Regions from separate parts of the Homo sapiens genome. Here region 1 is linked to region 2. The links come from fine-mapping of genetic effects on gene expression. A gene starts in region 2. The other region holds a variant in brackets. All regions are shown on one strand. Distances are between the middles of the regions.

The links. PIP is the estimated chance that this variant, and not a neighbour inherited with it, causes the effect.
Region 1: its variant is fine-mapped to the expression of LRRC38 in adrenal gland (GTEx, PIP above 0.99).

Annotation. Positions count from the first base shown.
Region 1 is chr1:13,478,826-13,484,191 of GRCh38, forward strand. All of the region lies in intron 1 of LRRC38 (leucine rich repeat containing 38), which reads right to left. Among named protein-coding and RNA genes, the nearest start is that of LRRC38, 32 kb to the right of the region's middle. The variant C/G (reference allele first, on the strand shown) is at 2,792.
Region 2 is chr1:13,511,200-13,516,565 of GRCh38, forward strand. LRRC38 (leucine rich repeat containing 38) reads right to left here and starts at 2,804. Exons shown (of 2, transcript NM_001010847.2): 1 at 1,764-2,804. The coding sequence starts at 2,394. It overlaps LOC107984918 (a long non-coding RNA gene), which reads left to right and starts at 2,021. Exons shown (of 3, transcript XR_001737896.2): 1 at 2,021-2,142; 2 at 3,092-3,345; 3 at 4,971-5,065.

The DNA.
Region 1 (5,366 bases), 32 kb before region 2:
CATCCTCCTTCCTTCTGTCCTGCCCCATCTTTTATGTAGTCTACAGCCAACCCATCGATGCTTCTGTCCCATGGGAACCATTGCCTAGCAACCAGACTCTGCATTCCCTCCTCTCCCAGAATCAGTGTCTGCTTTATATACCCAAGGAATTAGCTGGACCAGAGCTCTGCAGGCCTCCCCAATTTATACTTGATTACTGTTTTTGACTGTTTCTTTTTCTTAAAGAGGCCAAACTTCTGAGAATTTTAAATGCATTTGAATAAAACAGGAGAGCTTTATCTTTTAAAAAATAAAAATAAAAATAGGAGCACTTTAAAACAAAGTTATACTGGGCTTTTTTTTTTGCAGACACTCATGTCTTCAATGAAAAAATGGAAAAACATCAATCAACCTGCCTCCTAACAGCCTACCCCGGCCAAAAACGTTATGAAAATAAGTAAGATGGACACCAACAGACTGTGTGAAGCACAGACAGTTTCTAAAGCCAGCAGATTATTTGCAGCCTCCAAACTAGTGACAGATCATTATTTAGCTGGAGAAATTTTCTAGAAATCCTCATCTTCAGGAAGCGGTATCAACCGGAAAACCACCACAACCCAACAACATAAGCCCACGGCACCTGCCGTTTAAATCCAACCTTTGCAAGCCACCACTTCCCAAGTCAGTTCTGATTTCCACAATGTTCTTTGTGCCTTGAGACTCATCTTGGCATTTTTACAAAGTGACAATTTTAGAAAATGTCATCTCACATTTCTCCGTGGCTAGAAGAAATGGGCTTGTTTGAAAAACGGTGCACACAAGCCCACCAGGGGCGGGGACTTTAGAACGGCAGTGCTTAGTGGGGCTTTCATGATAAGATCCACTGACTTGATGAGCTTTCATAGCTCACAAAGGGCAGAGAAAGAAGAAGAGTTGGACGAAGAGAGTCTGCCAGGCAGACAGGGCCCAGCACAAGGCTGAGGGTATTGCTACAAAAGCTGGCTACAAAGGCTGTGAAGCCAACAGCACAACTCTAGACTTGGCATAGGCAGACTCCAGGGTCCCCTCTTCTCTCCTGGTAGACCCTTGTTTAAACCAGGGTTTCTCAACTTGGCCATCACTGACATTTGGGACAGGAACATTTTTTTGACATAGGGGCCGTCCTGTGTCCTGTAGGATGTTCAGCAGCATCCCTGGCCTCCACCTACCAGATGCCAGCAACACCTCCCACCCAGTGTGACAATCAAAACTGTCTCCAGTCCGGGAGTGGTGGCTCATGCCTGTAATCCCAGCACTTTGGGAGGCCGAGGCGGGTGGATTACCTGAGGTCAGGAGCTCCAGACCAACCTCGCCAATATGGCGAAACCCCACCTGTACTAAAAGTACAAAAATTAGCTGGGCATGGTGGCGCATGCCTGTAATCCCAGCTACTTGGGAGGCTGAGGCAAGAGAATTGCTTGAACCCCGGAGGTAGAGGCTGCAGTGAGCCGAGACCACGCCATTGCACTCCAGCCTGGGTAATAAGAGCGAAACTCTGTCTAAAAAATAAACAAACTGTCTCCAGACATTGCTACGTGTCCCCTGGGTGGGGAGGACAAAGTCACCTCAGTTGAGGATCACTGCTTTAGAGTGAAATGCTCTACTAAGTATATAGCTATTATGTAGACTTTTAAATTTTTTTGTAAAGACAGGGTCTCGCTCTGTTGCCCAGTGATATGGTTTGGCTGTGTCCTCACCCAAATCTCACCTTGAATTGTAATAATCCCCAGCTGTTAAGGTGGAGATAATTGAATCACGGGGTTGGTAGGTTTCCCCCATACTGTTCTCCTGGTTGTGAATAAGTCTCACTACCATGATGTTTTTAGAAATGGGAGTTCACCTCTACATGCGCTCTTGCCTGCCACCGTGTAAGACGTGAGTTTGCTCCTCCTTCACCTTCCACCATGATTGTGAGGCCTCCCCAGCCATGTGGAACTGTGAGTCCATTAAACCTCTTTCCTTTATAAATTACCCAGTTTCAGGTATGTCTTTATTAGCAGCACGAGAACAGACTAATACACCCAGGCTGGTCTGGAACTGCTGTCCTCAAGCAATCCTCCCACCTCAGCTTCACAAAGCTCTGAGATTAAAGGCGTGAGCCACCAGGCCCAGCCATTAGGTGGCTATTATGGACTAAACATTTAGATCCCCAGAATGTATATGTGGAAGCCCTAGCCCCCAGTGTGATGGTATCTGGAGGTGAGGCCTCTGGGAGGCAGTTAGGGTTAGATGAGATTAGGTAACTAGGGTGTGGCTGTCCTGATGGGATTAGTGTTCTTCCTCCCCACCCCCTCCAACAAGATGGAGTCTCACTCTGGAGGGCAGTGGCGCGATCTCGACTCACCACAACCTCTGCTTCCTGGGTTCAAGCGATTCTCCTGCCTCAGCCTTCCAAGTAGCTGGGATTACAGGTGTGTACCACAATGTCCAGTTAATTTTTTTGTATTTTTAGTAGAGATCTACCTTGGCCTCCCAAAGTGCTGGGACTTCAGATGTGAGACACAGCATCTGGCCAGGGATTAGTGTTCTTATGTTTTTTTTATTTTTTTTTTTTTGTTCTTTTTTTGAGATGGAGTCTCGCTCTGTCGCCCAGGCTGGAGTGCACTGGCATGATCTCGGCTCACTGCAAGCTCTGCCTCCTGGGTTCACGCCATTCTCCTTCCTCAGCCTCCAGAGTAGCTGGGACTACAGGCACCCACCACCACGCCCGGCTAATTTTTTTTGTATTTTTTTAGTAGAGACGGGGTTTCACCGTGTTAGCCAGGATTGTCTC[C/G]ACCTCCTGACCTTGTGATCCGCCCGCCTTGGCCTCCCAAAGTACTGGGATTACAGGCATGAGTCACCGTGCCCGGCCAATGTGTTCTTAGAAGAAGAGACACCAGAGAGCTCTCCCAATCTGTCTCTGCCTCTCACTTTCTTTCCCTCTCTCTCCCTCTCTCCCTCTCTCCCTCTCTCTCTCTCTCTCTCTCTCTCTCTCTCTCTCTCTGCCATGTGAGGACCCAGAAAGAAGGCGACCATCTGCAAGCCAGGAAGAGAGCCCTCTCCAGAACCCAGCCCTGCTGGCACCCTGATCTCAGACTTCCACCCTCCAGAACTGTGAGGAAATAAATGCCTGCTTGTTAAGCCACCAATCTATGGTGTTTTCTTATGGCAGCCTGAGAAGACTAAGATAGTAACCTTCTAAGACAGGCCTATTTTTAGTCAATAAATAGACATTTAGTTATTAAATGGCTTCCTTTAATTCATGCATTAAGCAAAACAGGTGAGGCTTCATGCTACATGCCATGCAGGATACAAAAGGAAGGAAGGGAAGATGGAAGGAAGGCAGGGAGAGTGGGAGGAAGAGAGAGAGACAGAGAGAGGTGGCCCTGGCCTCTTGGAGCTTAGGTCTTACAGGAGAGGCATAGGGACACAGGCACAAAAGAGGACACTTAAAGGACAAAGTGCAAAGCCTGGCCAGGCACGGTGGCTCACACCTGTAACCCCAGCACTTTGGGAGGCTGAGGCGGGTGGATCGCCTGAATGCAGGAGTTCAAGACCACCCCAGGCAACATGGTGAAACCCTGTCTCTACTAAAAATAACAAAAAAACTAACCAGGTGTGGTGGCGCACGCCTCTACTCCCAGCTACTTGGGAGGCTGAGACAGGAAAATTTCTTGAGCCCCAGAGGCAAACGCTGCAGTGAGCCAAGATTACGCCACTGCAATCCAGCTTGCGCTACCGAATAAGACTCCATCTCGGAAAAAAAAAAAAAAAAGAAAGTGCAACGCCCCACAAGACAGGTCAAGGGCAAGCTCACAGAGGGGGCTTTGGGGGCTGGATCAGCAGGACAGTGGAAGGATGGGCTGGCATGCGGCACATGGAGGTGACCATGGGATCCCTGCAATGTTCCTACCTGACCTTGGAATGTTCTCCTTTTCCTGACCTATCCCGTCAGCTGTCTAAGTTAAGAATAGTGAAGGAAAGCCAATACTTCACAGCACCTGGTGTGTGCCTAGCACACTTCAAGCTTCACAAAACATACTAGCCTTGTTTATTCCTCAGGCCAACCTGATCAGAAGGCCACTCTAAGTATCCCCATCTTATAGCTGACCAAACTGAAGCACAGAGAGGGCAAGTGACTTGCCCGGGGCCATGTAGCAGGGAAATGCCAGAGCTGGGCCTGACCCCAGCTGGTCTGGCTCTGGAGCTTGGCCACTGCATCGTGCCTCCCACTCTCCCAGGCACGAGACCTAGGGCTGCACCAGCCTGGCCCAGCCCCTCCCAACAAGCTCCCTCGAGGCACAGTGTCTTTTTTTTTTAATTTTATTAATTTATTTATTTAATTTTGAGACAGAGTCTTGCTCTGTAGCCCAGGCTGGAGTGCAGTTGTGTGATCTCGGCTCACTGGAACCTCTGCCTCCCAGGCTCAAGCAATTCTCCTGCCTCAGCCTCCCGAGTAACTGGGATTACAGGCACATGCCACCACCCCCAGCTAATTTTTGTATTTTTAGTAGAGATGGGGTTTCACTTTGGCCAGGTTGGTCTCAAACTCCAGACCTCAGGTGATCCACCTGCCTCGGCCTCCCGAAGTGCTGGGATTACAGGCGTGAGCCACCACACCCAGCCCAGGCAGAGTGTCTTCTAAAGAGATGGCCTAGAACTCTCCAGCCACCCTCCTGATCCCACCATGAGCTGGAAAGGCTGGGAAGATGAAGCCACTGGGCATCCAGGGAGCACAGCTTCTGGACACCCTTGTCAGAAGGGCTCCCTGGATGCCCTGAAATACAGAATGAAGAGATGCTGCCCACGTTAGGGTTAGGACGGACCCCAGGCTGGGCCACTTCACCACCTGGTGCCTGTGTGACCCTGGGCCAGGCCCAGCCACCTTGAGTGCCTCCTCGAGATGATACTGTGAACATGAAATAAGGGAATATCTGAAAAGCTCTCACCACAGTACCTGGCCACGTACGTGCTCGAGAATCCCGTGGTTAGCATTGTTCAGATTTTTGAAGTTTCAGACTGAGCCTGCGTTTGACTCCAGATATATGAGAAGGGTGCCCATATTAGGGTGTTCCAGAGAAACAGAACCAACAGAGAGGAGAGGAGTGGGGAGGGGAGGAGCGGGGAGGGGAGGGGAGAGGAGAGGGAGCGAGTACGCATGTGTGTGTGGAGAGAGATTTATTACAACTACTTCTAGTCATTCCTCTGCTCAACATCCCTCCAGTGGCTCCCCATCTCTCTTAAAATGAAATCCACAGCCCGCATCACCCCTGCTAAACCCCTCCACTCCGCCTTGCTTGCCGTTCCTCAAACGCCCCGCGCAGGCCACCGTCAGGGCCTCTGCACCTGCCTGCTCTGCCTGGCTCGCT
Region 2 (5,366 bases):
TACTTTCACTCACATCACCTTGTTTGGATCTCGACAACCACTGGGTGGGATGGACTATGCAGCATTACCCATGTCTTGATTTCACTCAAGGGAAAGGTGAAGCTTAAAAAACTGGAGTGACCCACCCAGAGTCCCCCAGATTTTAGGCCAGGACTTAAATCCATGTCTTCAGATTCCAAATCCAGGGCTCTTTGGAGATCTCAGAGGTCAACGCAAGAATTCTAGAGATGAGGAAACTGAGGCCCAAATGGGACAAGTGGCCTGTTCAAGGTCACAGTCACCATGGCAGAACTGAGACAAACCCACAGCTCCTGACTTCATAAAACCTTGCCTTCACCTGGAAGACAACTGGAGCCAATAAACCAACCCAACCAACAACAGGGGTGAATGGTGCCAACCCCACTGAAAAGGAAAGGCAGAAGCAAGCAGAACCGAGGTGTACCCCATCCCACCATGAGCTTTTCATCCGGTCACTCCTGTCTCCAGGACCGAGTCTACTGGTGGGCAGGGTCTGGGAAACCAGACAAGTGGATGAGGACAAAGTTTAAAGGTGGGGACTCTGCACCCTGCAGGCCAGATCGTTTTAGGAATTTCAGCCAGCCTGGGCTGAAAGTGATGGCTCAGGGGCCTGCATTTGCTGAAGAGTGAGCACCCCGAAGCATGGGGTGTGTTTGATGACAGTTGGGAATGAAGATATGAATGCAGGAGTTCAGCACACAGATGAACAGCATCCTTGATTTCTCCGTAAATGGAAAAAAAAATATTCTGAAGCTAAATCTGCATGTATGTCACCTTTGATGATGTGCGCCTTGCAGCTGTGGTCCCAATTCTGCTGAAATCTTGGGAGCAAGGCAGGAGGCAGAGTTCAGCTCTGAGAGGTCACTGCGGGCACTGGTGCTCACAGGGTCACAAGTGGGAGGCTGGAATCCACTTGGGGGAAGGACACCCACCTGCCACCTGCCTCCTCACTCTGGGTGCTCATCCCTGTGGATGCTGGGGTCCCCTCCTTCTCAGCTCCACCCGTGCTCCCTTCCTGCGGGCCTTAATGGAGCCCCTTAACTCCCTCCGCCCTGGTGTTCCCATCTGCCAAGTGAGTTTTTATGCCCACGCCGCCATTGGAAGCGTGCACCAGGAAAGCAAAGGGGGCACCAGCCCTCTACATTTTGGTTCAGCTTTTTCACATCTGGCTGAAAAGCCACAGAGAACTACAAATCATTACTGCATCATTGGCTCTTAATGGGCTGCCATTATTCCACATCAGAAATCTTCCTCACCCATATTAGACAGAAGAGCAAACTGGAGCTGAGAAGCTGAGAGGCCAGGTTAGGCTCGGGAAGCTGCTGGAGAGCCCTTGGAACTGGCTGACTCCCCGTGCACGGTACTGAGAATACGGCCGTTTCCCATAGAGTAGGCTGCATTCCGCTTACCAGGGACGCATAAGTAATCCACACCCGCCAGTCCTAGGACCCAAAGCCCAGGGAGATGATCCTGGGCATCCCGAGAAGGGGAAGGTCCCTAACTTGGTAAAGTGAGTTACTGGAGAAACAGGGGAAGAAGTACAGCCTCAGGGTTCAGAAACTCCAAAGAATTCCAGATGCGTCCCTCTCCACCCACTTCCCCAGCAGAGACCCAGGAAAAGTTCAGGATCCCCCAAGCCTCCTCTTCCAAACTCAACCCACGGCTCCTCCCACCCAGACTGGGGTCTGGGGTGGCCTCTCCCTGCCCCCCTCCCTCCCTCCCCCAGCCTAGCCGGCTCGGCTCACCTTTGGGCAGTTTGGATGCGTTCTCCTGGATCCAGGAGAAGAGGTGGGCGAAGTCACAGTCGCACAGCCAGGGGTTCCCGTCCAGACGCAGGGAGCGCAGCGCGGGCAGCGCGGCCAGGGCGGCCACGCTGAGGCTGCGCAGGTTGTTGTCGTTGAGCTCCAGCACCTGCAGCGACTCCAGGGTCTCGAAGGCGTCCTCGTGCACGCCCACCAGGTTGTTGTTAGCCAGGCTAAGCTTCACCAGCCTCCCGGCCGAGCGGAAGGCGCCGGCGCCCAGCTGGGTCAAGTTGTTGTAGCTGAGGTCGAGGAACACGAGCTTGGCCGAGCCGCTGAACGTGCCCTCCTCCAGCGAGCGCAGCGAGTTGTTCCTGAAGTCCAGGTAGACCAGGTCGCCGTAGAAGATGAAGAAGTCCTCGGGGATCCGCTGGATGCGGTTGCCGGCCACCAGCAGCTTGCGCACGTCCAGGGGGAAAGGGTCTGGCACGCTGGGCAGCCCGCGGTCGCGGCAGTCCACGGTGTGCGGGTCGGTGCAGGCGCAGCCCGCGGGGCACGCGTGCCCGGGCGCGAGCAGCAGCAGAAGGCTGCAGAGCCCGAGCGCCGCGGCGGCGCAGGCTGGGGCTCGGGGGCGCATGGCCGGGGGGCCCGCGCCGGCCGCGGCGAGAAGGAAGCGGCTCTCGGAGCGAGCCCTGGCGCGGGACGGCGCGGTGAGGCACTGGCTGCCGGGCGCGGGGAGCCAGAGGGCGGCCCGGGCGGGGAGGGCGTGCGCCCGGGCGTGCGGGGGCGATGGAGCGCGGCGCGGACGGACTGGGGAGCCGGGACAGCAGGGATGGAGAGGGGAGGGGCGGGGAGGGAGGGGCGAGGGACTCACCAAAGGGTTTACCCGGACAGGAAATTAACCCGCTAGAAAAATCTCTTGGGAGAGGCGGGAGCGGCAGGGGTGGCCGAGTGGCCGTCGCCAAAACGCGGCCCCACCCTGGCAGCTGATTTCCGAGATCTGGCAGTAAGACGCCGCGCGCACCGGGCGGGCTGCACTCGACGTCTAAGTTCAGCTACCAAGCCCAGGAGCGGTTTCCCTAAGGCGTGTCCCGGGCGTGCGCCCTGCCCCCTCGCGCCCGCCTGGTGCCAAAGCACGCTCCCTGCACGCCACCCTATGTCGCCAAAGGGAGTGGGACCTGGGTCACTCTGACTCTGCTCCGGGGGCAATCCCTGCAGGTTCTCGGGTGCCGCGCCAGGGTCTGCTGGTCTGAATTTGGGCGGGGTTCCAAGGGGAGAGAGTGAGTGACTGGTCTTCCCTCTTCCCTCCCCCACCTGCACTTGAACCATCTTAGGCTGGAGGGTGAGCGAGGCAAGTGGCTGCCAGGGCCCCCGCTGTGGCCTGCAGGGCCAGTCAGCACTTTCCATGCCGGCCCCGAACTTCTGGATGGAACTGGCATCCATGCAAGGATCAGCTGCTGGTCTGAGAGGTCCAGCTGCTGAGGCTCTGAGGCCTGGAGTCACCAGGCCTGGCTTCCAAGCTGTGTGGCCTCAGACCAGTACCTCTGCCTCTGTGGACCTGGTAGCTCCATTTGTGAAATGGAAAAAGGTAATATATATCTCATCAGCTTTGGGGGAGGACCAAGAAGTCAAGAACAAAGTTCAAAAATTATCTTTTCCTCTCTCCCCCTCAAAACCCCACCTTGGATAGCCTAGGGAGGCAGTCAGGAACGTGCCAAGGCTGAGATGAAAGGACAGTGAGGAAATGCTGATGTCAGCCTCTGACACTGGCAGGAAAATTCCCTCTTCACCACCCCGATGCCAAACTCCTTTCTTTCTGTCCCACCTCATTCTAGAAACTTCTATATGGGGAGGGGTCCCCACAGAGCTACCAAGAGATTGTCCCGCTGTTGGCTATTTTGGTCCAAATGCCCTAGAATTGACAGACTCCCACTAGACCAAAATAACCCAGGGAACAGCTGTTGGGCAGCAGGCTCCCAGAGACCCTTCCCTGGCCCCTGGCCATGCTGGGGATTGGTGGAGCCTCGGATTCTGAAGCCATAAAGCTAAGCCCTCGGCCTTCTTCCAAAGGTACAGGCCGACTTGATGCCTCTGAGCCATGGGATGAAAAAACTGATCCCCTGGGATGGAGCCAAGGGCTCAACAGATGAGCATATTTGCAGGAGCCCTGGGGAAGAGGCGGGGGAGACCCAGGGGGAAGCTTTGAGGCACCTGGAGTCCTGCAGCTTTTCCCCTACTTACATTCCAGGCCACTAAGCCAGACCTCCCTCAGTTCTCCGTCTCTGTCTCCACTCTCCCAGGGTGCCCAATTTGCCATTGCCATCCCCAACTTCAAGGGCTCAGCTTCCCCACCCCAGTCTCATGCTCTTGAAGAGGCAGGTGTCGGGAGGAGTGGTCTGAATGCTCCCAGAGTGGATGAAAATGCTTCTGCCTACATAAATGATGTATAAATTATTGAAGAGTCACACAAAGTGCAGGCAGGTGGCAGAATAAACACATCTCCCACCCTTGCAACTCTGCAAAAGCAGCCTGAACCGAACTGTTGCACTCTGCCAATCTCAGGCTTGGTTCTGCCTGCTCCCTCCTGTACTGAGGGGAACCTATTACTGGTTTGAGCCCTTAGCATCATGGTTTCATGACACCCGCATTTGGTTGGGCTGCCATCTTGCACGTGCATGCCCGCGTGTCTGTATGTCTGGGTGTGTACACAAGCCCTCCCTGCCAAGTGGTCTGGTTGGCTGGAGCACTGACCTATATGAATCAAGACCCTGGGTCTGGTCCTGGCCCCACCACTAGCCACAGAATCTTTCACAAGCCACTTGATCTCTCTGGGGACTTCTTAGCCTGGGTCCCCAGATACTATGAAGAGGAGGTCTTTTCAAAATTTAAAAAAGTCTGGTGAAAATTAGGCCTTTATCTTTGAGGAGGTCTCCCGGATTAAATACTGCAATTCTTGCCAGTGAACTTAATGGTAGCACTAGTCCTTTTGTGCAGAACCGGCATTCATAGGTGACTTTAAGAAAAACAGAGATGAATTTCTACTGAATAAATGCAAGTATTTAGTTGACAAGGACTTGCAAAACAGGGGAATGCATGGTACTAAAATATTAAGAGGGGCTCTTGGTAACAAACCTATTGAGAAATACCACTCCTAGCCTTGATTTCCTCATCCTGAAACTAATGAAAAAATACCTTTCTTCTTCCTTTCCACAGACAACGTGAGGGCCGCATGGGGAAGTATTTGTATGGGAACATGATTTGAAAGGTCTTTGGAGAAATATTGCCAATAAAAGTGGCCACAAATCTTGCGATGGCAGGAACAATTTGTTTCCTCGAGTGTCCCCCAAAGTTCCTTGGATCCAAATGTAAGCATTCTTTTCATTAATATCAGCAGAACTAGACATGGTTGGGCTTTGTAGGGAGCAGGGAGGTATCTCAGATTCCAGAGCTCCCATCCCTTGGGGGAAATACAAGCTTTGCCACCTCTAAATTTTTCCCCCAACAAATAAAACAGAGCCATGACCTCAGCAAGGTCACAATATGAGTCAGTGATAGGCGCTAGAAATAGAACACAGGCATTCTGAGTCCCCACCTGCACCATTCACCAAT